Linked DNA regions of Homo sapiens. The protein of the gene in region 7 purifies or fractionates together with the protein of the main gene of each other region. This does not show direct contact. Each region holds a gene or a part of one and is shown on either strand. Other genes may lie near its edges. The genes, in order: RMND5A, PCYT2, MAEA, FLNB, FLNC, ARMC8 and LAD1.

Evidence for each region.
Region 1: the proteins of LAD1 (region 7) and RMND5A purify together in Homo sapiens (affinity purification with mass spectrometry; one large-scale study listed by BioGRID and IntAct). This does not show direct contact.
Region 2: the proteins of LAD1 (region 7) and PCYT2 fractionate together in Homo sapiens (co-fractionation; one large-scale study listed by BioGRID). This does not show direct contact.
Region 3: the proteins of LAD1 (region 7) and MAEA purify together in Homo sapiens (affinity purification with western blotting; one study listed by BioGRID). This does not show direct contact.
Region 4: the proteins of LAD1 (region 7) and FLNB purify together in Homo sapiens (affinity purification with mass spectrometry; one large-scale study listed by BioGRID and IntAct). This does not show direct contact.
Region 5: the proteins of LAD1 (region 7) and FLNC purify together in Homo sapiens (affinity purification with mass spectrometry; one large-scale study listed by BioGRID and IntAct). This does not show direct contact.
Region 6: the proteins of LAD1 (region 7) and ARMC8 purify together in Homo sapiens (affinity purification with mass spectrometry; one large-scale study listed by BioGRID and IntAct). This does not show direct contact.

Annotation. Positions count from the first base shown.
Region 1 is NC_000002.12:86,723,291-86,726,790, reverse strand, and holds part of RMND5A (E3 ubiquitin-protein transferase RMND5A), read right to left. Parts: intron 1-3,500.
Region 2 is NC_000017.11:81,901,400-81,904,899, reverse strand, and holds part of PCYT2 (ethanolamine-phosphate cytidylyltransferase), read left to right. Parts: coding exon 1-67; 3' UTR 68-2,151; coding exon of another isoform or gene 2,152-2,280; 3' UTR 2,281-2,373; coding exon of another isoform or gene 2,374-2,622; 3' UTR 2,623-3,500. Other genes in the region: NPB (neuropeptide B preproprotein), read right to left, coding at 2,152-2,280, 2,374-2,622. UniProt on the Homo sapiens protein: Ethanolamine-phosphate cytidylyltransferase that catalyzes the second step in the synthesis of phosphatidylethanolamine (PE) from ethanolamine via the CDP-ethanolamine pathway.
Region 3 is NC_000004.12:1,320,891-1,324,390, reverse strand, and holds part of MAEA (E3 ubiquitin-protein transferase MAEA), read right to left. Parts: intron 2,011-3,500; coding exon 1,888-2,010; intron 1-1,887.
Region 4 is NC_000003.12:58,168,922-58,172,421, reverse strand, and holds the end of FLNB (filamin-B), read right to left. Parts: intron 2,833-3,500; coding exon 2,629-2,832; intron 1,926-2,628; exon of another isoform or gene 1,848-1,925; coding exon 1,660-1,847; 3' UTR 646-1,659; coding exon of another isoform or gene 549-645; 3' UTR 352-548; coding exon of another isoform or gene 261-351; 3' UTR 171-260; downstream 1-170. Other genes in the region: uncharacterized protein LOC124909485, read right to left, coding at 261-351, 549-645. UniProt on the Homo sapiens protein: Connects cell membrane constituents to the actin cytoskeleton. May promote orthogonal branching of actin filaments and links actin filaments to membrane glycoproteins. Anchors various transmembrane proteins to the actin cytoskeleton.
Region 5 is NC_000007.14:128,850,906-128,854,405, reverse strand, and holds part of FLNC (filamin-C), read right to left. Parts: coding exon 3,463-3,500; intron 3,175-3,462; coding exon 3,046-3,174; intron 3,006-3,045; exon of another isoform or gene 2,952-3,005; coding exon 2,778-2,951; intron 1,816-2,777; coding exon 1,654-1,815; intron 1,579-1,653; coding exon 1,375-1,578; intron 1,122-1,374; exon of another isoform or gene 1,009-1,121; intron 938-1,008; coding exon 785-937; intron 692-784; coding exon 569-691; intron 433-568; coding exon 190-432; intron 1-189.
Region 6 is NC_000003.12:138,242,801-138,246,300, reverse strand, and holds part of ARMC8 (armadillo repeat-containing protein 8), read right to left. Parts: intron 1,214-3,500; coding exon 1,118-1,213; coding exon of another isoform or gene 1,052-1,117; exon of another isoform or gene 1-1,051. UniProt on the Homo sapiens protein: Component of the CTLH E3 ubiquitin-protein ligase complex that selectively accepts ubiquitin from UBE2H and mediates ubiquitination and subsequent proteasomal degradation of the transcription factor HBP1.
Region 7 is NC_000001.11:201,389,325-201,392,824, reverse strand, and holds part of LAD1 (ladinin-1), read left to right. Parts: intron 1-3,500. UniProt on the Homo sapiens protein: Anchoring filament protein which is a component of the basement membrane zone.

The DNA.
Region 1 (3,500 bases), on a different chromosome or scaffold from region 7:
ATTTATACATCAACAAATTCCATTTTAATGAACACTATTATGTCACCTGCCAGTCTAAATGAATACGGTGCCAAATAAAAAAGAATTAATTATCTCCAGAGTACGTCTGGAAAAAGAATGGCTAACAAAGTTAAATCTACTTCTAAACCCAACTGGAAACACCAATATACTGACTTTTTATTCTTACCACCTAAAATGGCCTAAATAACTTGAGAACCAGTCTGTTCTTCTCTTAGAATGTTTGAACAATGTCCTCCCAAACTTTTATTTATGACCTACTGATATACTATTTTCCAGACTAGATGTTAAAAACAGATATCAAATTGTATTCAAAACAAAGTCACTATTCTCTCAAGAGTGTCTTGTTAGTATTTAGCAAAAGTCTGGGTAACAAATGGGCAACCTGGCTATGAGGCCTACTCCATGCACACCAAAGAATAAGGCTAAAAAGGTAAACAAGCTACAAGTCTACCAAGCCCCGATATAATACATTTACTTTCATTCAAAACAATATATTCAACACTGGTCGGCTCTGAAAAAGCACAGATCATTCATATATACAAATAAGCATACTTTTCAACACATGTGTTTAATATACACAACCCAAATTCTAGATTGGAAGATTATACCTAACATGCGACCCTCAACCTCTGGTTTTTGTGTACTGATGCAATATCATACCACAGCAATGAGTTAAAAATGTGACCTCCACAAGTTTCTTTTTTTGTTTTTCATGTTTTACTTGCCTACTTACCTTCTCATTTGTTACCTTCACATTTTTAAAAAGAAAGCAGTTCTCCAACTGGTAACCAAAGTTTCAACAGTTTCTTTGATTCACCAAAGAGATAAGGGTAGGAGTTATGGTTTACATGAGTTTTACTACTAGAAGTCACAACATACACACACACCAAAGGAGTTTTAGGTGCTAATACAGTATATGTTGATCACTCCCACAGATGAAGACATCTTTACCAACTTGCAAAGTGAGATAACACTAAGCCTTAATCATAGTAAATGGAAATACATATCTGATGCGTTAAAGAAAAAAGGAAAAGTGACAAATCGTCATTTCACTGGATTCTTTTAAAATTTTTTCTGGAGGTCGGGCGCAGTGGCTCACGCCTGTAATCCCTGCAGTTTGGAAGGCCGAGGCGCGTGGACTGCTTGAGGTCAGGTGTTCAAGACCAGCCTGACCCACATGTTGAAACCCCGTCTCTACTAAAAATACAAAAATTAGCCAGGCATGGTGGCAGGTGGTGCCTGTAATCCCAGCTACTCAGGAGGCTGAGGCAGGAGAATTGCCTGAAGCCAGGAGGCGGAGGTTGCAGTGAGCTAAGATCGCACCACTGCACTCCAGCCTGGGTGACAGAGGGAGGCTGTCTCAAAAAACAACAAAAAAATTTTTTTTCTGGAGACTGGCATTTATGTCTGTGAAGTGGGCAACCAGGTGGTCCAGGAACAAGAGTAGAAAGATTTTTCAATGGGTGTCCTTTTTTATCATTTGAGTTTATACCATTTGAATGTACTATTCACTGGGTTATCTTTTTCATTGTTTGAATGGATACCATTTGAATGTATGACTTACTAAAAATTAATAAATAAATTTTAAATTTAGAAAATTCCTTGAAAGTCACTTTCAGAAACCACATTAGAACTCCGTTAGTCTAAAAATAATCAGAAAAGAATACTGCATGTCCTTTACTCTTACAAAAACTGCAATTTTCCCAAGTATACTTTTAAATGTGTCCTGAAACCATTACCAACTGTTTCTGCCTAATTTTCTTTCACAAAGTATGAGTGCAGAATACCAGCAAAACATGATAAATAGTTCTTTTCTGTTTTTCCCTTCCACCACAGAGGTGCTAATGGGAAACAATATAAATTTGCCAATAGGAAAAAAATGCTAAAAGGCATATACTCACAAATCAAATCACTAAAAGTTAACCATACAGTAGTTAACCCTGTTAAGCCAGGGTTATCCAAAGCACCGCTCCCATACCACTGATGCGAATGGTAATTTTAGCTAGTATGTAAACTAATATTTTAATTGTTATGAATTTATTTTAACATGTAGTTTATTATACCTAATACCTACATACCACATGTAGGACTACACAAATATCACTGCCTAAGATAAATCTACTTAAGTAAAATCGTGAATCCATCTGAAAAATAAGAGTGCACATGTGTATGAGTGAAGTTTTAGAAGCACCAGTGCACTATACAAATTAGATCGAGGCACACTGGGAATGACCACCAGCCTACATTAACCACAATGAACTTAGACCAAACTTCGTGCTCACAGGGAAACTCTCACTGAAAGGCTGGCACAACTAAATGACAGAAGCTGTGATCTCTATTCCTCTTACCTTGGACACCTCACTGCAGGCTCTGGATCACTCCCCACCCTCCTATCTACCACCCTAAGGTTTCTAATTCCAAAGGCATGAAGAGAAGTCTAGAGTCAGTCTCCAGGGAGAGGAATGTCTTGGCCTCGGCAGAGCTCTTCAGTATTCTCCCTGGTTCTTATTGCCTCTTCATGTTTCTATTACACCTATGTTGTCCCTGAACCACCAATATTCCCTAACTGTCTATGGCACCAAGTCGAAGCCTGCACTTCCCTCTCAGAGCCTTATATTCCATTATTGTTCTCTGCTGCAGGCCTGATACCAGTCCAACCCCATTTAAAAGAAAAAAAAAAAAAGATATTCCTGTTGTCAGGCTGACGGATTTGGCCAGAGGTGGATTAAATGGCAGAGCACAAACCAATTCACCAGGTATGAGAGACCAGCCCATACTATCCTCATTTCCCCAAGTGTATCTGCATTAAGAAACTTGCATTTTAAAAAAGATTAACGAGAGAAATTTTATGTAAAAGAATTTCAAGCTACTTAAAGGTGATTTAGACCACCTGAGAAATTTTAGGGCTCACTGCAGGACTATCTCCCAGCCAGCAATCAGGCAGTATTTACAATCTGGAATAAGGGTGCTGAGACTAGAAAAGGGTTGTCAATGGGCTTACTAACTAAACTCTTATTTATGTATGATCAGTTTCCATCACAAACTATCCTAACAGCTCATTTAGTATATAGCTGTCTGCTCACAACTTCAGAGATGAAAAAAAAATTTTAACATAAAACATTCATCCTCAGAAACTGAACCAATCCCTTTAGGTTGGCTAAAGGATGCTTCTGCAACAGTCATTCACCAGTATGATGCAATGATGTGTTCTATATAGTCCTCAAAAATTCTGTTTTATTCATACCAGATTCTTGCAAGTATTACCACAAGTAATCTCAGAGAATGAGGTCCAAAGTCCTGACAGAGGGGTCCCAATTAGAGCCTCTCAGGTTATCAGAATCATTTGCCCAGACAGGTATATTCAGAAGCCCAAAAATCTTCCCTTTAAACTTGAAAATAGAGTTCCAAACTCAGTTTTCAGTAAAATACCTTTGAGAAGGGCATATTTAAGTTTCAATGTAATATCTACCACATCACCT
Region 2 (3,500 bases), on a different chromosome or scaffold from region 7:
GGCCTTCCTGGAGGCTGCCAGGCAGCAGGCGGCACAGCCCCTGGGGGAGCGCGATGGTGACTTCTAACCTGGCAGAGGCCCTGGCCGGCCCTCCCCCTGCTCTGCTTCTGCGCCTTCTGCGTTTGGACATAGGACTCTGCAGGGCCGCCCTCTCTAACTGGCCTGGCTCTGGAAGGGCTGGTGAGGACTCTGCCTCCTTGCCTGCCTACAAGGTGCCTGGTTTGCAGCAGGCTCTCCGCTCTTTCCAGCAAAGCTGCTCAGAGAGGGTGTCCAGCACAGTGGAGAGGCCGGAAGTGAGACGGGCAGACGGCACCTGCAGCCTGAAACGCACCGCTCCTGCGTGCGCCCCCACCTGGTCCCCGGATGCCCCCACCACCTGGACAGAGGCCACACTGACTGCCCACCCAGCTGTGGCGGGAGGTGCAGAGCAGAGGGCTTTAGGGAGCAGTGACTGCGGTCACCCCTTTAGTTCTCTGGGTGTAGACCACACCACCTCCCACTGGGCACCCCCCAACACGGTGTCCTGCCACCCAGCGCCTGGCTCCAGGAAAACACGCTTGCCTTCCTTCCCGGCAGCTTCGCCACTCTCCTTATGGACTCTGTTCTGTTTGTACATGGCTGACGGAAATCTCTTTGGTACAACCGAATAAAGCCTGGTGGCAGTGCTGCGCGGGGCTCCCAGCCCTGCTGGGAAGGACCAGGGAACCACTCAGCAAGGAGACCCTCTTGGCCCTGCCCCCACCATGCACCCAGCAGCCGGGAGTGCAGCGGGCAGCCTGGCAGTGAGTGAAACCCAGGCCTCCAGCCCTCCAAAGCCTGGGGCCACCCCCTGTAGCAGGCGATGCTAGAATAAGGAGGAGAGCCAGAGCTGAGGCTCCTTGCCCCTTGGCCCCTCCAGGGGCCATGGGATCTCTGTCTCCCACACCCCTGTCACGGCCCGCCTGGAGCAGCCCAGAGGCCGAAGAGGTTCTTACTGCAGCCTCCGGGAGGTGTCTAGGGAGGCCATAGATTGCCTGGTCTCGCCGCATTCAAAATGAGGCTTATGATCAGTACTTTTTTCAGCCCCACATTCCTCTCCAGAATGGCCTCTGCCCTACAGCACCTGGCCCATGTGGCACCCCATGGGCCTGTCCTCTGCTGTTGTGAGGTCGACCTCACGACCCAGCACAGGAGCTGGAGGCGAGGTGCACGCGAGGCTCTCCACAGCCCAGGAAGGCAGCCTGTCACCCTGCTCTCCGAGCCAGGGGCCAAGGTGTGGGGGGCACAGGCCATCCTCATCCTGCCAGGCCCCCGCTTTCAGGAGTGGGGTGGTGCCAATGCTCCCACTCAGAACCCTGGACTGCGGGGTCCCCTGAGCAGAGGGACCAGCCAGTTCCCCATAGACAGATTGGTGCTGGACAGGGGCTGCCTGGGCCCCAGGCTTGGGGAGGGTAGAAAGGCCCTGCAGTGCTGCTGCCTGGGCCCGGAGGTGGGCCTGGCCCCGTAGCAGCATTGGAGGCCAGAGCCCAAGCCAGTTCCGGAGTCACACCCAACGGCGGAGGGAGAACCTACCCATCTCCCACCTTCAGCTCTGGGGAGGCATGCTCTGGGCCTCTGGAGCCAGGGCTCAGGCCCCCAACTCTCCTCCTTGCCCCTGCACCCTCGGACTTGGCCTGGCCAGAAGGGATGGGGGCAAGAGGAAGGCAGCCAGGGGCTCCAGCCCATGCCCTCACAGATTTGGCTCTCGAGTTGGGGAGCGAAGGGCTGGGGGAGGACACTGGGAACCGGGCCAGCCGTGGCCCTGCACTTCCCCCAGGGAGCACCAAGGCTAGGCGCGGCTTCACCGCGGGGCTGGGTCGTGGCCAGCTTCGCCCCTGGGTCTGAAGACCTCTGGGCGGCCCAGGCCAACCTTGCCCTGCCGCCGCACACTCGGCTGCCTTCTCATACCCAGGCTTGGGGATTTCCAGGTCCCGTTCCCCTCGTGGCCTGGCTGCCAGTCCTCCAGCACCCCTCACTCCGAGGCCGCCTCATTTATTTATTCGTTTGCCATTAACTGCGGGGTGAGCGGAGTAGGGGAGACCTGGGGCGCCATCCCGCGCCGGAGGGGCCTGGGGTCACCGAGTGGGACGGTGGGGGCGGGGGGCCCCCAGCGGTGCCAGGAGAGGTCCGGGCTCAGGCGGCGAGGCAGTCGGCTGCGCGCAGGGACAGGAAGACGTTCGCCTTGCACTGGTAGGTCCCGCGGCCGTCGGGGAGCCGCTCGCACCTCTGCAGGTTTGGGGCGACGTCCTGGACGCACACAGCCTGGGGGGCAGGCAAGCAAAGGCTGAGGGGCCGCCGCACCCCCACCCACGTCCTGCCGCCGCCCCCCATCAGTCCCCGGCACGCCGGACTCACGAGGCTCCGCAGCCTGGGGTGCAGTTGCAGCTCCGGGGAGGCGCCGGCCCCGCCCGGGGGTTCCGCCCCTCTGTAGGGCTGGGAGCGCCGCGCGTACGGGGACCTGCGGAGGCCGGACAGCAGCCCCGCGGCGCGGCCCACCGAGTAGGAGCTGTGCCCCGCCGCTGGCTTGTACCACGCGAGGCCAGGCGGCGCCAGCAGCAGGCACAGCGCCAGGGCGGCGGCCGCCAGTGTCGCGGACCGGGCCATGGGGACGCCGGCTGACTGGTGGGCGGCGGCGTCCGGGCTCGGAGCAGCCACCGCCTGGGCCGCCTTATATCTGCGGCGAGGGCGGGCCGAGGCTGCGGAGGGCCGGGAGGGGCGGCGGGCGGGCTGGGGTGCAGCGGGCGCGCGCGGAGGAGCCGTCGCACCTCCGCATCCCAAAGGAACCAGCCGCGCGGGCGAGCGCTGGAGGCGCGCAAGGATCTGGCGCTTGGTGGGAGCCCAACGCCCCCTCAAGCTCCCCACCCATGCCGCTCGCGCCCTTCAGGCCCGGCTTGCGTGGGCCGCAGTGGCAGCAGGGGAGGGCCCACGGGCGCCCAGCCCTAGGAGTCGTCCCCCAGGCAATCCCCAGTACTCCTGATGCTGGAGAGCCAGCCACACTGCACAGTGCCCCGGGGGCGGTTTCTACCACCCTAAGGGGTATTCTTGGCTCCAGGCATCAGAGTCCATGTGGCTTGTGGGGCCCTCATTTCTTTCATGCCCACTGGGGAAGGTTCCACCAGCAGGGCTGTTACTGGCGGGGTCCTCTGGGAGGGGGGCAAGAAGGCCAGCCACACCAAGGCACTGGAGCTCCACGACTCCTGGCCTTCGATTGGAGGCCCCTCTCTGCCAGCTCTGCCCCTTGGGGGGCACCAGGCAGGACTGCCAGCCGCTCTCCTGGCAGGTGACATCAGCCTTCAAGCTCACTGTGCCCTCACCATTTCATGCTCCCCCAAGGTCCTGGTCATGTCTTCTCTTGGGTATCTTCCCAGGACAGGCACTGGCACTGGAGCCCTGGCACTTGTTTCTGGGTTCCATGCTTCCCAGGTGTGATGGTGAATGCTGAGTGTCAGCTTGACTGGATTGAAGGATGCAAAGTATTGTCA
Region 3 (3,500 bases), on a different chromosome or scaffold from region 7:
TCCAACCTCAACTTCATCCAACACCAGACACACTCGTCCACCAGGCATCCAATCTCAACTTCATCCAAACCAATCTCAACTTCATCCAACACCAGACACACTCATCCACCAGGCATCCAATCTCAACTCATCCAACACCAGACACGCTCATCCACCAGGCATCCAATCTCAACTCATCCAACGCCAGGCACACTCATTGACCAGGCATCCAATCTCAACTTCATCCAACACCAGACATACTCATCCACCAGGCATCCAATCTCAACTTCATCCAATACCAGGCACACTCATCCACCAGGCATCCAATCTCAACTCCATCCAACACCAGACACACTGATCCACCAGGCATCCAATCTCAACTTCATCCAACACCAAGCACGCTCATCCAATCTCAACTCATCCAACACAAGGCATGCTCACCCAATCTCAACTTATCCAACACCAGGCACGCTCATCCACCAGGCATCCAATCTCAACTTCATCCAACACCAGGCACACTCGTCCCCCAGGCATGCATTCAGGGCCCCGAGTCCTGGCCCTGCCTGTCCCCACAGCAGCTTCAGACAGGTCGTGTGCTCGTGGCAAGCCTCCAACACCCTCCAGCAACACTGTCCGGCAGGTAATTAGGGCTTGCAGGAATATCCTGGCAGCACCAAGAACCTATCTTCCCTCTGACATCCACAGGAAACAGCCCTGGCAGAGTTCCCACTGTGAGGTGTGTGCCGGCTCTCTGGGAGGGAGTGTGGGGCTGGCACTGTGTAGTGGGGCCGCAGGTTACATACCAATTCTGGCTTTCCTTTTAGGGTTTCCATACCAAGGTCCAAACTCTCTTTAGGGGAGCTACTAGCCGCTCTACTTTTTCGTCCCGTCTTTGCTTCGTGCTTGTTTTGGCGGCCCTGAGTGGCAGTGTGTCACTCCTGGCTGGTAACTGCGTGCACCCTGCCAAACTCAGCCAGGGTGAGGTTAAAGCAGCGCTCAGTTTAGAAGACAGAAAAGTTTTGCTAATGGAGGCAGAAGTGTTAACATAAGTTAAAACATTTCTGCAAGCCCCTAGGGTGACAATGCCTTTTAATAAGCAGGTTTAAATTTTGTCCTTTAGGAGTCCATTTCTTAAGCTTCTTTTGGTCTCTACAAAAGTCGGTACTCGGCCGGGCACGGTGGCTCACGCCTGTAATCCCAGCACTTTGGGAGGTTGAGGCAGGTGGATCACAAGGTCAGGAGATCAAGACCATCCTGGCCAACGTGGTGAAATCCCATGTCTACTAAAAATACAAAAATTAGCCGGGCATGGTGGCGCATGCCTATAATCCCAGCTACTCAGGAGGCCAAGGCAAGAGAATCGCTTGAACACCGGAGGCAAGTGAGCCAAGATCGTGCCACTGCACTCCACCCTGGCGACAAAGCGAGACTCCGTCTCAAAAAAAAAAAAAAAAAAAAAAAAAAAAAAGTGGGTATTCATTAACAATATCACAGCCCAGAGCTCTGCAGCCTCGCAGATGGAGAATGACTTCCCAACCAGCTTTTCTGTGTCTATGACTGAGCACAGGGAGCCCATGGAGTACCCCCATGGAGCAGGACTGACCTGTCTCCAGGCTCTAAGCCCAGCAGCCCCAACACTCTGTGTGCACATGGTCAGCCTCCTGTAACCCACTCCTTCTGAGCCTCATGCCAGCTGTACACAAACTGTAATGCCAAATGAGGTGCACTTTTCCAGATTTTAGCCTAAAAGTGTAACACAGCCACCAAAAAAACTCCCAAACCCAACCCCCACCTTACAAACCAAAACCAAACTACTGTGAACCACCAGGCAAGGGGGTGCTGGCTCCAGGGCAGGTGGCGCAGCCTCGGCCCCGACCCACTCCCACCCCAACCTGGGAGTCCGTGCACCTTCATCTTCCGGAGCCGGGACTTGTTGTCATGGCACCAGGCCAGGCAGGTGGCCGTCTCACGCCTCTCCAGGGACTCCTCCACCTCTTTGGCCGTCAGGAACATCTCAATATTCACTAGGTCCTTAGAGGAAGGAAGCAGCACCTGATCAGAATGTGCTGGCTCAAGGCCCCCATGCCACCCTCCCACACCCCAGCCTCCATGAGGCAGGCCCAGCACCGGCCACCACTCGAGATGCATCTCCAGTCCACACTGTGGGTCTGCACTCGTGGACTACTCAGGGCCGCTCTGAGATCCTAGGAACAGAACAGCCCCCAAGGACCAAAAGGTCGGACGCTCACGTAGACAGCAGCCATAGCCGGGCAAGGGAGCCAGGCTGGCCCCACCTGTCCATGGAGAGGAGCTGCTGAGACACACATGCAGGCAGGGCCAGGCCACATGCCAGGCGGCCCTGTCTCCACTCCCCACAGCCCCCCAGCACATCTACAGGCCCTCCCTGGGCAGCCCCCTCATTTCAAAATCAACAGTAAGCAAATAATAACATGCTAAATAATACATAAACACATTATGGCTAATATCGCGGTAGTTACAACCAATGATTTATATGAAAGCAAAGAAAAAAAAAAAAAACAACAAAAAAAACAGAGTAACCCAGGCTTAGCATCAAGTCTCCGCTAGTGGCCGGGCACAGGGGGTGGGTGCTCAGTGCCTAGCAGTGGAACCCATGGTCTCTGGCAGGGGCAGGACAGCAGCTGGTACGGGACTCCACCAGGCACGGCAAGGCTTGGGGCAAGCGCTCAGGTGGTCCTCAGCAGCAATGACTCCCGACCTTCCCCAGTGGGACCAAGGACGGCACCTCCGCCTGCACATAGCCCAGGACCCAACGGCCCAGGATGAGGCCACAGTTCACCACTTGGGTCCCACAGCCCCACGTCTGGACCACCGGCCTCACAGATGCGCTGTTTTCTTTGATGATTACTCTTTTCTGAAACCCCTCATAACGTTGTTTTCTTGCACCTTTTCTTTCATGATTTCTTGTTTCTGAAACCCCTTCATAGCATTTTCTTGCATGTTTGCTTTGATGATTTCTCTTTTCTGAAACCCCTCACAGTGTTGTTTCCTTGCATCTTTTCTTTAACGGTTTCTCGTTTCTGAAACCCCTTCATAGCGTTTTCTTGCATGTTTGCTTTGATGATATCTTTTTTAAAGCCCCTTCATAGCGTTTTCTTGCACGTTTGCTTTGATGATTTCTTTTCTGAAGCCCCTTCATAGCGTTTTCTTGCACATTTGCTTTGATGATTTCTTTTCTGAAGCCCCTTCATAGCGTTTTCTTGCATGTTGATTATTCTTTTCTGAAGCCCCTTCAAAGCATTTTCTTGCATGTGTGCTTTTGTTTGTTTTTTTGAGACGGAGTCTCGCTCTGCCGCCCAGGCTGGAGTGCAGTGGCGCAATCTCCACTCACTGCAAGCTCCGCCTCCTGGGTTCACACCATTCTCCTGCCTTGGCCTCCCGGGTAGCTGGGACTACAGGCGCCTGCCACCACGCCCGGCTAAATTTTTGTATTTTTAGTAGAGACAGGGTTTCACCGTGTTAGCCAGGATGGTCTCGATCTC
Region 4 (3,500 bases), on a different chromosome or scaffold from region 7:
CTGCCTCCGCCTCCTGAGTAGCTGGGACTGCAGGCATGCATCACCATGCTGGCTAATTTTTTAATTTTTTGTAGAGGCTGGGTCTTGCTGTTACCCAGGCTGAGGGTGTTGAACTCCTAGGATTAAACAATTTATTCAGAAGCGACATCATCCAAGAACACCAAGGCAACTTTACGGAGCAAATGTTTTATTTAATAAGTTATAAGATACAATTTACAGTCGGCGTTTGATTCCAGTTTGGCTTCCGTGTCCCAGCTTACAACACCCGTGGTCCTTTCACATCAGGCTCCGGGCTGTTCCACTTTCTGTAGGGTGGGCTTTTACCCCCAACACTCGCCCCAGATACTACACCTGCCACAAGAGTGGCCACTTCCTCAGGACTAAGCAGCAAAACCTAAAGGTCTGCCTGCCCAGACCACACTACACATTTGGGCTCAGGCAACGTCCCTGACACTTTAACCTCATTCCAAAGCCAGCTCAGGTCTGCAGGAAGGCAGGCAAAATTCCCTACACCTCATTTCTGGATTTCTGCACCACACAGCTCTCACTGTTTCTGCCAATGGTGAAAAGACCACCAATAAGCTGCTGCCCTTCTCTCCCCCAACCATTCCCAACTTTCAGGCCAAAGACCCGCAGGAGTTTCATTCTGTCCTGTCTGTACAGATCATTATTTTCCAGAAAAAGTGACCCATGAAGTTGGCTGGGGCGGGTGTGGAGTGTTATGTCATGGGACGGACCTTGGGATGAGGGCGTTAATCCATGGGCCCCTCTGAGATCACTTTAAACATTTTGGTAAGACTGCCCAGGCTGATGAAGGGCTGGAGCGTGTGTTAAAAACAAGGGCTAGTGTTGGTTAAAAGGGATCTTTGGCAAGTGGGAAACTGCTCGCCACTGCAGAATTTCTTCAGACCAAGGAAGGGACTGAAACGGACTTGGAAAACTAAAGCAAAACCATGACTGCCGGGATGGTCTCGTGTGGTGATTCTGCAAGAAATAATCACCAGAGCGAGGGGACAGGTACTTGAGAGACATGTGGGCCTGGCTGCCACTCTGCCCTCTGAGTTTCTGTAGGGTGCCCGGCTGCCACTCTGCCCTCTGAGAAGTGTAAGAAGGCCACAGAGCATGGGGGTGTTGGCGATGAGGAGCGGTAAAGCAGTGCTAGTGATCTAATAGCCAAATACATTAACACGGACACTGGAAGAGATTAAGCGGATTTTAAGTCATCTCCTTTGCCAAATGACAACCAAACTAGGTGTCCCCTTTTTCTCTGCCCATCTTCCCCTAGCCTTGTTTCATAAATGCTGAAGAGTGAACCAGCAGCTCAGGCTAGCCAGTTTTGTTTTTTTGAAATGTCAGTCTCATTGTGTTCCTGGTCTGTCTGCTGCAGTGGCTGGTCTGTTCCACCAAGAGTTCTGGTTTGCACCTAGTGTACTCAGGATCTTCTCAGCCCCCTGAACAAGCTTGCATTTCTTAAGATTCTCCAATATGTCCCTCAAGAGTCCAGTCTAGGACTTATTTCTGAAGGCATTTTACAACAGCAATATTTTAGGGATGGGGTTTCAGCCCCACAAACAGGCTGGAGGGCTTTGTATAAAATGAATTACAAACAAGCAACAAAAGCAACCACAAGAACTCTCTCCAGGATTTGAGAAAACTGTTTTAAGGCACTGTGACATGAAAAGGGCTGCCAGGGATGTGTTCCTCCCCCCACTTCACAGCCAGCACATAATCGCCCCTCTCCTTGACGACGTATGTGACGTTGTATTGCTGGTTGCCTACATGCTTCATGGAGACCTCCTCGCAGGGGGTGGTGGGCCCATGGACCCCGATCAGCAGCATGTTGGAGCCTAGGAGGCAAAAGGTGGTTACTCCACCCGGATGCATCAGGACAGGCACAGGAAGAAGAGGAAATATGAGAGCCAAAGGTAAGGTGCTTCCACGATAATGCTGGGGCCCCTAAGAGGTGGGAGAGCGTGGCAATTACAAGCAGAGGCTCATAGAGCCTGACGGTGTGGGTTCGAATCCCTGCCCTGCCACTTGCTACCTGGGTGACCTTGGACTGGAATCTCACCTCTCCCTAGCTCAGCTTCCCCATCTGTAAACAGGGAATGAGAACAGCACATACCTCACGAACTAGTTGTGAGGTTTAAGAGTTATGGGTGTCAAAACCTAGCACACAGTAAGGGCTATTCTAAGTGTTGGCTATGAGAATCTTCTTGTTTACTCTCACAAGCACCTTAAGGAAGGTACTTCCGAGAAGAGGAAACTGACTTTTGGAAAGAGATTTAATAACTTTCCAAGGTCACATGGCTAAATAAGTTTTAGAACAAACGAATGAATGAATGAAGTGGCGGTACTAGGTTTCCAGCCCAGGTGTACTGGATGCCAGAACCCAGGCAACCGACCCTTGAAACCCAAATAAATACCCAAGTTCAAAAGGCAAAAGAGAAGGAAATCATTTAAAAATATTAAGTGCAGGAGAACAGGGTCATGACGATGGTTACTTGCAAACGGCTGGCCTACATGGGGGTGGGCACTGCAGGAGACCTCAGCAGGGAAGGCCAGTGTACCCAGGGTGCCCAGCCTGCCCCTGCCCCACCCCACCCTTGAAAAGGCCCAGACACCTACCAGCTTTGCTGCAGTCCACCAGGAAGGAACTCTTCTGGCCCACAAAGGCCTTTGAGAGCCCTGCCCCCTTAGAGGTCACCTTGCTGGCGTCCGAGGATGCCTTGGGAATGGCGCTATAGCAGGTCTCTGTAGACGACCTGGTCACTGACTCCACCAGGATGGATGAGGTCTCGTTGGCTGAGCCAGGGCTAACTAGACGCTGGCCTAAGATACAGGAGGGAGGGGGACAGGCATGAATGGCCAGATCAAGAGGGGTCTCTCAGCCAGAGGACAGGCGAGTACCCTACACAGTAACCCCAGGAGAGCCCGCGCACCCCAACACAAAAGCCACCACACCTGTATCTCACACCCATAATGTCTTCTAAACCCCTAGGATCCCACCCCCATACAACTAGGATCTGGCTTTCTGGGCAAATGGATGAGTCTGGCCTTGGCTGACAAGGCCAAGGACCCTCCCAATCCCCCCACCCCCTACCCACCAAAGATGTGCCTGTGGAATTCACATCTTTCTATTGACATAAAATAGTCTATGTATAAGCAGTGTAAAAGTTTGGGATGACATATAATGAAATATCAAAAAATGATTCTGTGGATGAGAAAGGATGATTTTTCTATCTGAATTTTCTAATTTTCCTGCGATGAACCTACATTCTTTATGTAACAGTGAATCATGACGTGTGGAAGGGATTTACTACAGTGTTTATGGTGGTTACCTTGGGTGGTGGCTGTGAAGTGGTTTTCATAGTTTGGTATTTTTTCCAGTGTTTTGGAGGAGACACATTTTTATAAGTATAGGAAAACTTTTTGATTATTTTTCAAGTGAAAATTAGAAATCAGGGGATTTTTCAGACCCTGATCTAAACAAATACGTA
Region 5 (3,500 bases), on a different chromosome or scaffold from region 7:
GTTTGGGGGATGTCAGGGCAACACTGGGATTCCTCCTAGCCCTGGCCCTTCCCTCCCCCATCAGTTAAACCTCCTCCTCTGCTCAGACCTGCCCTGGCCTTCGGGGCCAGTCTGCCAGCATCAAGCCTGGTCCGCAGCACCCTCCCATCCCGCCGTGAGGACCCGGCCGGCCCAGTGTGCGGTGCTCACCCTCCTGCTGCCGGGTGATGCTGCCGAAGGATCCCAGGCGCTCCCGGCCCAGGAAGTCCCCAAACACAGCAGGGAAGGGGTCCCCGCCGACCTGGGTGGACTCCTCCACCCGCACCTCGCGCTTTGTCTCCCCGCCCCGCGTCTTGCTGATCTCCGTGCGCTCCGTGCGGGTGTAGGTGTGGCTGCTGCGTGTGAAGGTGCGTGTCAGGCGCTCCTGGGCAGACACCATCTGGAACCAGTTTCCTGTGTGGTCAAGGGAGCCAGGGTGAGGGAGGGAAGCGAGGGGTGAGGAAGCAGGGTGGAGGCCCGACAGGTGGGCTCTGGCCCGGGCCAGCCCTCTCCCACCACCCGCCCCACCCAGGGTCCTCCAGGCTTCTACCTGGGATCTTGAGGTTGAGGTCACAGGTGCTGCCGATGGTGGCGATGGAAGGTGCCTGTCTCCGCCGGGTGATGCTCTCCTTCATGCGGCCCTCGCCGGTCACCTTCACAGTGAAGGGGCTTCCTGAAGTGGGGACAAAGGGTGGGTCAGGAACCTCAGAGCCCCAGCCTCCTGGCCTCCCTGTCTCTCGCCACCGACCTCTGCCCAGAGCCTTACCAGGCACGTGCTTGTCAGCAAACTTGATGTTGATGATGTAGGTGCCGGGCTCGGTGGGGCAGTAGGTGACTTTGCATGTCCCGTCCTCCATGTCCTCACAGTTGATGTCCACCTTGCTTGGGCCTTCAATACTCAGCCCCAAGCCCCCATAACCTGGGGGAAAGCAAGGAACACATCTCCCTCAGTCCTAGGCTGGCCAAGCCACAATGCTTTCCTCTCCCCAGACTGCAGGCTCCACCCAGAATGGGCACCGATGTGTGTAGTGACCACTAACAAAAATGGCTCAGTGGGAGGAGCGGGGGCACCACGGGACAGGCGGTCTGGAAAATTCCCTAAGGTAAGCCTCTTGGATTCCAGTGAGCAAGGGAGGGACAGAAACTCAGGACAGCTGAGCTTTCTCTTAAAAGGGAGAGAACTGATGCGGGGCCATTCACTTTCCCGCAAGGGGCCCCAGAATGCGAATCCTGACGCAGACTGGTCAGGAAGTTTCAGGGAGGAGAGAGTGCGGCCAAGGGGGTGCTGGGCAGGACGAGGACAAGTGCCTGTGGGAGGCACCCGCTGGAATGGGGGCTCTCTGGGGCAGGAGGTACCTGCATTGCGAGTGTCCACGATGAACTCTGCCACCTGGAATGTGTGTCCCTCGGAAAGCCCCTTGCCCCAGACCCGCACCTTGCTGGCGTCCCCGATCTCAGATGGCCCCACCAGGATCTTGAAGGGGCTGTTGGTGACATGCTTGCCACTCTTGCGCACGCTCACCACGTGCTCCCCGACCTCCTTGGGGGTGAAGGAGATCCCTGTGGAAAGTGGGTGTTAGGCAGAGCATCCTGTGGGCCCCCACCCCTGAGGTCCCCGTGAGGCCCCACGCTCACCAATGTGCCGGTTGGGCAGGCGCTTCAGCAGGCAGGGCTCCTCGTTGCCCGAGGGGGCACGGATGCTGGCGGTCAGCTGGCTCAGATCACTCTCGGTGATCTTCAGTGACACGTCCGTGGAGGTGCCCACATTCAGCTGTGAGGTCCTCATGGAGTCATCACCTGGTGGGGGAGTTGGGGCATCAGGCTGCTATGACTCCAGGCAGGCCCTGCCCTCACAGGGCTCAGGAACCCTCCTGAGCAGCCCCCCCTGGACTCAACAGACACGGGGGGCCACTCCCAGGTGCACGGAGGCCCAAGGCCTGGAAAGTGCAGTCTGCACTCACATGTGAGCTGCCAGAGACTAAGAGGGGCCTGTACCCCAATTCCACTGTGGCTGCCTCAGTCCTTGTGGGCTAAATCCCTAAAGGAAACCTCCTGCATTTTAACCCTGAGTCACATGATGTTGTGATAACAAAACACTAGACTGGACCGCCCAGACCCCTTCCTCGCTGTGTGGCTGTAATCATGTTGCTTGGCCTCTCTGGGACAGGGGTTCCTTATCTATCAAAAGGATTATCCGTGCCCTAACTTCTTAAGAGTGACTTCATGCTGGGCGTGGTGGCTCACACCTGTAATCCCAGCACTTTGGGAGGCCGAGGCAGGTGGATCACAAGGTCAGGAGATCGAGACCATCCTGGCTAACACGGTGAAACCCTGTCTCTACTAAAAATACAAAAAATAGCCAGGCATGGTGGCGGGCGCCTGGAGTCCCAGCTACTTGGGAGGCTGAGGCAGAAGAATGGCATGAACCCGGGAGGCGGAGGTTGCAGTGAGCCGAGATCGTGCCACTGTACTCCAGCCTGGGTGACAGAGCAAGACTCCCTCTCAAAAACAAAAACAAAACAAATGACTTCAAAGACTAAATGAGGCAATGTGTTTTCAGGCACAAGGAGTGGCTGACTGCTTCTTAGCTGCCGTGGAGAACAGAGTGTTTTTACATTTATCAAAATATGACCCCTCACACCTTGAAGGGCCTCTGCCCTAATGTCACGAGTGACTTGAACGGGCTGGGCTTGCACATGAGTGCACTGTATGCGGTGTGTGTGCCTCATGGGCTGTACATGCCCATACACCCGCCTCACCTGTGATCTTGGCTGTGAAGGGGCTCCCCGGGATGTGCTTGTCATCGAAGCGCACGATGATGCTGTAGTCTCCAGGCGCAGTCGGCAGATAGGACACGGTGCAGGTGCCATCCTTGTTGTCCTTACAGGTGATCTCTGCCTTGGATGGGCCCTCCACGGCCAGTGACAGACCCCCTGTAGGTGGAGGTGTGGCCAAGATCAGAGGTCCTGCCCTCACCCCTGCCCCTGGTGAGTCTCCACCCCAGCCTGCGACCTGCAGCTCCCTCACCTTCTCCAGCATCTTTGGTGACAATAGTGAAGGTGGCTGGCTTGTTGACCATGCCATGGCTCAGGCCTGGCCCATAGGCACTGACATGGCGGCTGTTGATGGCATCCACATAGAACTGTAAGGGGCTCCCTGGGGATACAGAGAAAAAGGGGGCTGGGTCAGCATCAGGGATTATCTGAGCCCACCTTGGCCCCAGCACCTTCCAGCAGCCTCCCTGCCAACCCCCTCCGTCTGTGCCGTAGGGACCCAGCTGGTGGAGGTCTGCTTCCCACCAGGGTATAAGCCTCCCTGGGGCCTCGCCTGGTGTCTGCACACAGCGGGTGCTCAATAAATATTTGTTGAAAGAGGGAAGGCAGGACTGAAGCTACGGCCTGCTCCTCTCACCCAAGCCCCAGCCCAGCCCAGCCCCTAACTCACCAGGGATGTGGTTGCCGTCATACTTGATCCCCATCTGG
Region 6 (3,500 bases), on a different chromosome or scaffold from region 7:
CTTGTTAACTGAAATAAAGTGAGGTACATGGAAACATTCAATTTATTAGTTGTGCTTTTTGCATTGATTTTAAATCAAAGCTACTCACACATCAAATCTTATTGCTATTACTTCAGTTTCTTCAAGAAATGGTTCCTTTTCAAGTTATTTCAACAAATGTAAGGTTGTTCCATACTCCTCTTTCTACAGGCCTGAAGAACTTCTCTGAATCATGGTAAACTCTAATACTTTGTGATTTCTCTCACAGTGCTCCTTAAAATACTAATGCAGATGGAGAGATTTAGTAAATCATCATGTTCAGTAAATAATGACTAATTTGCTCTTTCTGCTATGGCTCCTCAAGACAGAACATGTGGTTTTGCTCTCTGATGGTCTTGAAAGCCTTGTGTAGAATTTATTAGGTTATACATGTTTTTGAGTGGTAAGTTCCAGCTTTTTGGTTTGTGGAAGGAGCCAAGTCAGAGCTTACTTACCACTATACTCCTCATCTAGAAGTATTCTCATCAAGAACATGAGTTCAGTGTTAGACTAGGCTTTAGTAACATAAGGGTGCTATACCAGTGCATACATTTTCTGGGGAGCTGGAAAATTCAGATGACCACTCACTAAACATAAAATCATCATTCCACAAAGATTTTATTCACATTAAACTTGCACAGTAGCAAAAAAAATCAAAACATAAAACTAAGCCACATATCAAAGAACAATATACAATAGAGATTTGAATTTCTCAATAGCATTGGAAGGTATTTCCATAAATAACATTTACAATTCTAATGTTAGGACTTTCAAGGTGTCTGAAGCTTCACAGTGCTAGAATTGATTTTTATCAGAACACATGCAAAAATGTGCAACATAATAATTCATATTAATGACACAAAAAAAAAGCACGCCAGTTATTTGTCATTCCAGCACGGCCATGCCACTCTATGTTCTAAAAACAAACAAACAACCCCCCAAATCCGGGTCCCATTCATTCTTCAATTATGCCTTTAGTCACTCTGCTTTATTATATTCAAACAGTCACTGTTAGTGCTCTTCACCACGACTTTCAGGTTGACGTCACTCCCTGCCTGCTGGCTGTCAGGACTGGGGGACGCCCCTCTCCCAGACTCACCTTCTTCCGGATGTCTTCATCATTTGCTCCAAGAGAGGCATAGAGCTTGAATGCAGCCTGGCGGAGTTCGTGAGCATGTTTTAAATCATGATCAAGCTATGGGGAAAAAAAGGATATGTTCCAACTCAGTCCATAAATTCAACTTTCAATAACATTAACTGAGTTGAAGAAAAAAAAAGTTTACAACTTTTAGATTTTAGTGAATTTCCCAGTCATTAACTACATTTCCCAGTTATTTTTGGATTCTGTTCACATAGCACTGAGACTTTGCAGTGTTCGTATCAATGTGACCTAAAATGCACACAATATGCTTCCATTTAAAAGTGAACACTATATTTGACACTGATATATGAAAAACCATTGTGAATCTCTGACTCCGAAAAATTCAGTGTTCCTAAATGGTAGCTTTACTGGCACTAATGCTTGCTTGCAGCAGCTCTTTGAAATGTTCTCCTTCAAAAGAAGGCACACCTGGACTTCTCTAGCCCCAGACTACAGCTGATAACCTGAATGAAATCGCAACAATGTCTTTAGGAGGGTTCCCTTAATTTTCTGAAACATTAAGAGTAGTGCTGGCCTAATTTTGGCATTTAAAAAGCTTTTAGAGGCCGGGCGCGGTGGCTCACGCCTGTAATCCCAGCACTTTGGGAGGCCGAGGCAGATGGATCATGAGGTCAGGAGATCTAGACCATCCTGGCTAACACGATAAAACCCTGTCTCTACTAAAAATACAAAAAAATGAGCTGGGCGTGGTGGCAGGCGCCTGTAGTCCCAGCTACTTGGGAGGCTGAGGCGGGAGAATGGTGTGAACCCAGGAGGCAGAGGTTGTAGTGAGCCGAGATCGCGCCACTGCACTCTAGCCTGGGCAACAGAGCGAGACTACATCTCAAAAATAAATAAATAAATAAAAATAAATAAAATAAAAAGCTTTTAGAAACAGAGAACCCATTGTGAAAATGCTTAACAAACCGTATACTATGGTAACCATTATTATCTATTACAGTTATCTGAGATTTATGTTGGGTATGGGTTTTTTCAAGAACATTATCAAAATTATCAGCATGAAGCAATTAATGGTATCTTTAAACATGCATAACTAATTATCAACTCTTCTATAAACTTGATCACCAAACTACTGTAAAGATAAAACAGAAGCATATTTTCAGGATACTTTCAATGACTGACTATGACCAAGTAACTATACAAAGTCTACCAATAATATAAATAACCTCGTAACTAAAAGCCTTAATGTAATCATCCAAATGAATACCACTTTTCCCAAAGAAGTTACTTTGGAAAGGTTCACTCATCCAATGATGTAGGTGTTGTTCATAACATTCTGAGACCCTCTTTTGAAACTTCCTAAAGAGCTAACTGGTATTATTAGCTAGAAAACACTGACAGTGGTATAGCTTGATCAATGATGAGACTTTTAGTTGTCACTGACTGTGTGTGAAGATGGAGAAATTCAGTTGGGTAATATAACGTAGGTAACAAAAAATTCCACAGAAAGCAAAAGACAATATATATATTTTACATATATATATAATTTGGGGTGGCTCTGAAGGCAATTCTTAATAGTTCCAAAACTTCTGTTCAAAGCAGACACTGATGGATTATAGGAAGAACTTCCCAATACAGAATACTCACTTTGATAAGTTCTAAAAGTATCTACTCTTAAAGTCTTAACTACATTCTAGTCATAAATTAAGATATAATACTGACTTGAACTAACATATCATGAAAATCACAAATTTATTAACATGTGAAGATTTCTCTTTACGGGTCTAGTGTCTATACTTTTCGGGTCAGAAACCTTTGGATAATCCATCATCAAAAATAAAGATGACAAAACAAACTATTACTCAAGTTTGGTATTACGATGTCATTTTTAAGGATTATTGTTGTTACAGTTTTACTCTGATGGAAATGAAATGGAAAAACTAACAGAAGGGATAATCTACGTACTAGTTAAATGATTTGCATATGCATAGGCTACATGTTCTTAAAATTGTTTCCTTACTCTCATGGCCATCAAAACATTTTATTTGCCTTCCTGGGGTGGTCAACTCAGGGCGTTCATGAGGCAGTAGCTAAGGGTTGCTCATGTATCTTTGTATTGGTAAGATACAGTGTCAGTGTGAAAAAATGACCAGAAGGAAAACAGACAAGGCAACTGGTTAAATGTATGTAACCCATCACTTCTACTGGAAAAACACCACTACTGAAAGAAGAGCAGACACATAAGTTTAATACCCAGAGAGTAGAGTACATTACTAATACAAATACCAGTGAAGGTTATTTTAGGCCCTTCTTAAGACAGAGTAAAGATATACCCTTAATAGTTTGCTTTATTTTCAAAGTTAAAAGCCAAATGAACAAC
Region 7 (3,500 bases):
CCTCTCCCCTGGCCCTTTCAATGTTTTTTTTTTTCATACAGCAGCCAGAGAGATTAAAAATAGAGCGATCCCATCATGTTGTTTTTCTGTGTAACACTCTCCAGGGCTCTCCAGCACACCTGGAATAAAACCCAAGTCCTTTCCCTGGTCTCCAAGGCCCTCTGCTCTGGCCTTGCTTCCCTCTCCAGCTTCCCTGTGGGCCACTCTGGCCCTGGTTTCCCGTCTTCCCCTGAATACCCAGCTCCTCACATGCAGGCTCTGCACTGGCTGGATCCTCCTCCTGGAACACTGGCTGACGGATCTGGCTCTGCTGCCTCCTCCTCATGAACCAGGGCTCTCCGAGGGGGCTTTCCCACCCAGCCACCTTCTCTCATGTCACTTACTTTGTTCCCTTGTCCTAGTGACACTTAGCTGGTGTCATTTTGTTCATGGGCTTGTTTCCTTGCTCATGGTCTGACTCCCCCATGCTGGATGTGTGCCCTGTGAAGGGGAAGACCCTGTTGGTCTCATTCCCAGCTGTTCCCAGCCCCTGGAATCGTGCCTGGTACATAGTAGGTCCTCAAAAGTAATTTTTTAGTGAATATTGGCTCAATCCAGGGGATGCTGGACCTAGAAAAAAATCGGAGCGGTTCATGTGGTTCATCCTTCTCATTTTAGGAGGGAAAACTGAGGAAGAGAAAAGGAAGTAACTTGCCAAAGGGCAGGAGGACTAGAAACCAGATCACCTGACCTTGCCTTACCACAGACTCCCTGTGGAGGAGACAGGCTCAGTGGGAACTAGGGCTGAGCAGCAGGAGAGGCTGGGACAGCAAAGGGTAGAGAGTTTGGCATCTGGCAGTGGCAAGAGGAGGCCTTGCAGTCGTTGCTATAACTCTGGGAGGGAAGAAAGAGGCCTTTTCTAGAACCTTTTAACCTGATTTGCAGACAATGCAGGGGGAACCACAGAGAAGGGCTCCCCCAGCTGACTTTCACAGCCTGGTACTCCCCTGCTCACACCCCCTCCTGTCTCCCGGGGTGAAGCTCAGCCTCCTGTCCCCAGCAAACCCTGAACCTCGGTACCTTCCCTCTGCCTGGACTGCCAGCCCCACCCCATCGAAAGCCTGTTTGTTCACTGAGATGCAGCCCGGTTCATCTCTTCCATGAGCCTTTTCTGATAATCTTGGCCTATAGCATCTGTTCTCTCACACTGAAGAACAACTTATGCACTTTGGTTGGGGGAGTTATTGGTGGACACACTTCTCTTTTTCACTGGATTGTCAATATCTCCAGGGCAGAGACCCTGCCATGTTCTGTGATGCCCACACAGTTCCTGACATGGTGCTGGCTTGTCATAGTCATTCAGTTTTCATTTGCTGTTTGGTTGGACTGGAAGGGGTGGGGTGGATGGAAGATGGGCTGGTGGGAGGTGGTAGGTAGGGCAGGTGGATAAAGATGGTGGAAACAGCTGAGTGGCTGAGTACATGGATGTGTGGGCGAGTAGTAGATGGATAGACTGGTGGAGTTGCCTGGCTGGCTGTAGAATGCCTGCTTGGCCCCATGAATGAAGGGTGACTGGGGCAGGAACCAAAAGTAGAGTGTGGGGTCCCCTTGCTCCCCAGAGAAGTGAAAGTTGTCTGGATTTTCATCCAGATCTGTGGAGCTCCATGGCTCAACTCTTTCCACGAAGCTCTTTCCATCTGAAAGGTGAGGGAGGCTCCAAGAGCCCCTGGGAAGTGAAAGGAAGGCGATATTGGAGTTTTTTCCATGGGTAAATGGTTTTGTTTGTAAGTCTTCCCTTCCCAAAAGCTAAGAAATTCCATGGGGAATTGAGTGAGGAAATATCTCCATGACTGTCCACTGATGGATATTACCTAAGAATCCCAGGACCAAAAAGAGAAAGGCACTTGGCAAGTTCATCTGTTTCCTTCAGGCAGGACCAGGCCCGCCCTTCCACGTTCCTAGTCACCCCCGGTGATGGAGGCCCTCCCATTCTCATCCCGGGGTCCAGAGTACAGTTCAACCCAGTGGTTCCTATGTGGGGTGACTTTGCCCCCCAGGAGACATTTGGCAATGTCAGGAAACATTTTGGTTGTCCCATCTGGGGCATGTACTACTGGCACCCAGCAGGTAGAGGCTAGAGATGCTGCTAAACGTCCTGTGATCCAGGACAGCCCTGGACACGCAATTGTCTGGCCAAAGTGTCAACAGTGCTGAGCTGGAGAAACCCCAGTCTAATCCAAAGCCCTGCAGCTTTACTAGGAATTTGATAGACGTATGATTTGAACTACATTTAAAATGTTAAGTTTTTTTTGAGATGGAGTTTCACTCTTGCCCAGGCTGGAGTGCAATGGCACTATCTCGGCTCACTGCAACCTCTGCCTCCCAGGTTCGAGCAATTCTCTGGCCTCAGCCTCCCGAGTAGCTGGGATTATAGGCATGCACCGCTATGCCCAGCTAATTTTTTTTTTTTTTTTTGTATTTTTAGTAGAGACAGGGTTTCACCAAGTCTTGATCTCTGGTGATCCACCCTCCTCAGCCTCCCAAAGTGCTGGGATTACAGGTGTGAGCCACCGCGCCCGGCCTAAAATGTTAAGTTTTTGAGTAGTCACATTAAAAAAGTAAAAAGCAGCCCAGCACAGTGGCTCATGCCTGTAATCCCAGCACTTTGGGAGGCCAAGGTGGGAGGATTGCTTGAGCCCAGGAGTCTAGGACCAGCTGAGCAACATTGTGAGACCTCATTTCTACAAAAAATCTAAAAATTAACCAGGTGTAGTGGTGCACACCTGTAGTCCTAGCTACTCAGGAGGCTGAGGTGGGAGGATCACTTGAGCCTGGGAGGTTGGGGCTGCAGTGAGCTGTGATTGTGCCACTGCACTCCAATCTGAGCAACACAGCGAGATCCTGTTTCAAAAAAAAGGAAAAAACAAAATTAATTTTAATATTATAGCTCATTTACCCCAATATATCCACAATATTGCCACTTCAACACACAATCAATATACACAATTTTTTTCTTTCTTTTTTGAGACAGAGTCTTGTTGTGTCACCCAGGCTGGAGTGCAGTGACACAATCTCGACTCACTGCAACCTCTGCCTCCTGGGTTCAAGTGATTCTCGTGCCTCAACCTCCTCAGTAGCTGGGACTACAGGTGTGCACCACCACACCCGGCTAATCTTTTTTTTTTTTTTGTATTTTTGTAGAGATGGAGGTTGCCATGTTGCTCAAGCTGGTCTCAAACTCCTGAGCTCAGGCAATCCGCGTGTCTCAGCCTCCTAAAGTGCTAGGATCATAGGCATGAGCGACCGCGCCTGGCCGATGTACATAGTTCTTAATGAGACCTTTCACTGGTCTTCAAGATCCAGTGTGTATTTCACACAGCATGCCTTGGTTCACACCAGCCACGTTTCAAGCACTTCTGAGCTGCTAGTAGCCAGTGCAGGCCTAGAGGGCATTTGGTCTCTTCTCCCAGCCCTAGAGGAGCCTGCCTCGGGAGGGTCCTGGGTTTCCCCAGCTGTGCTGA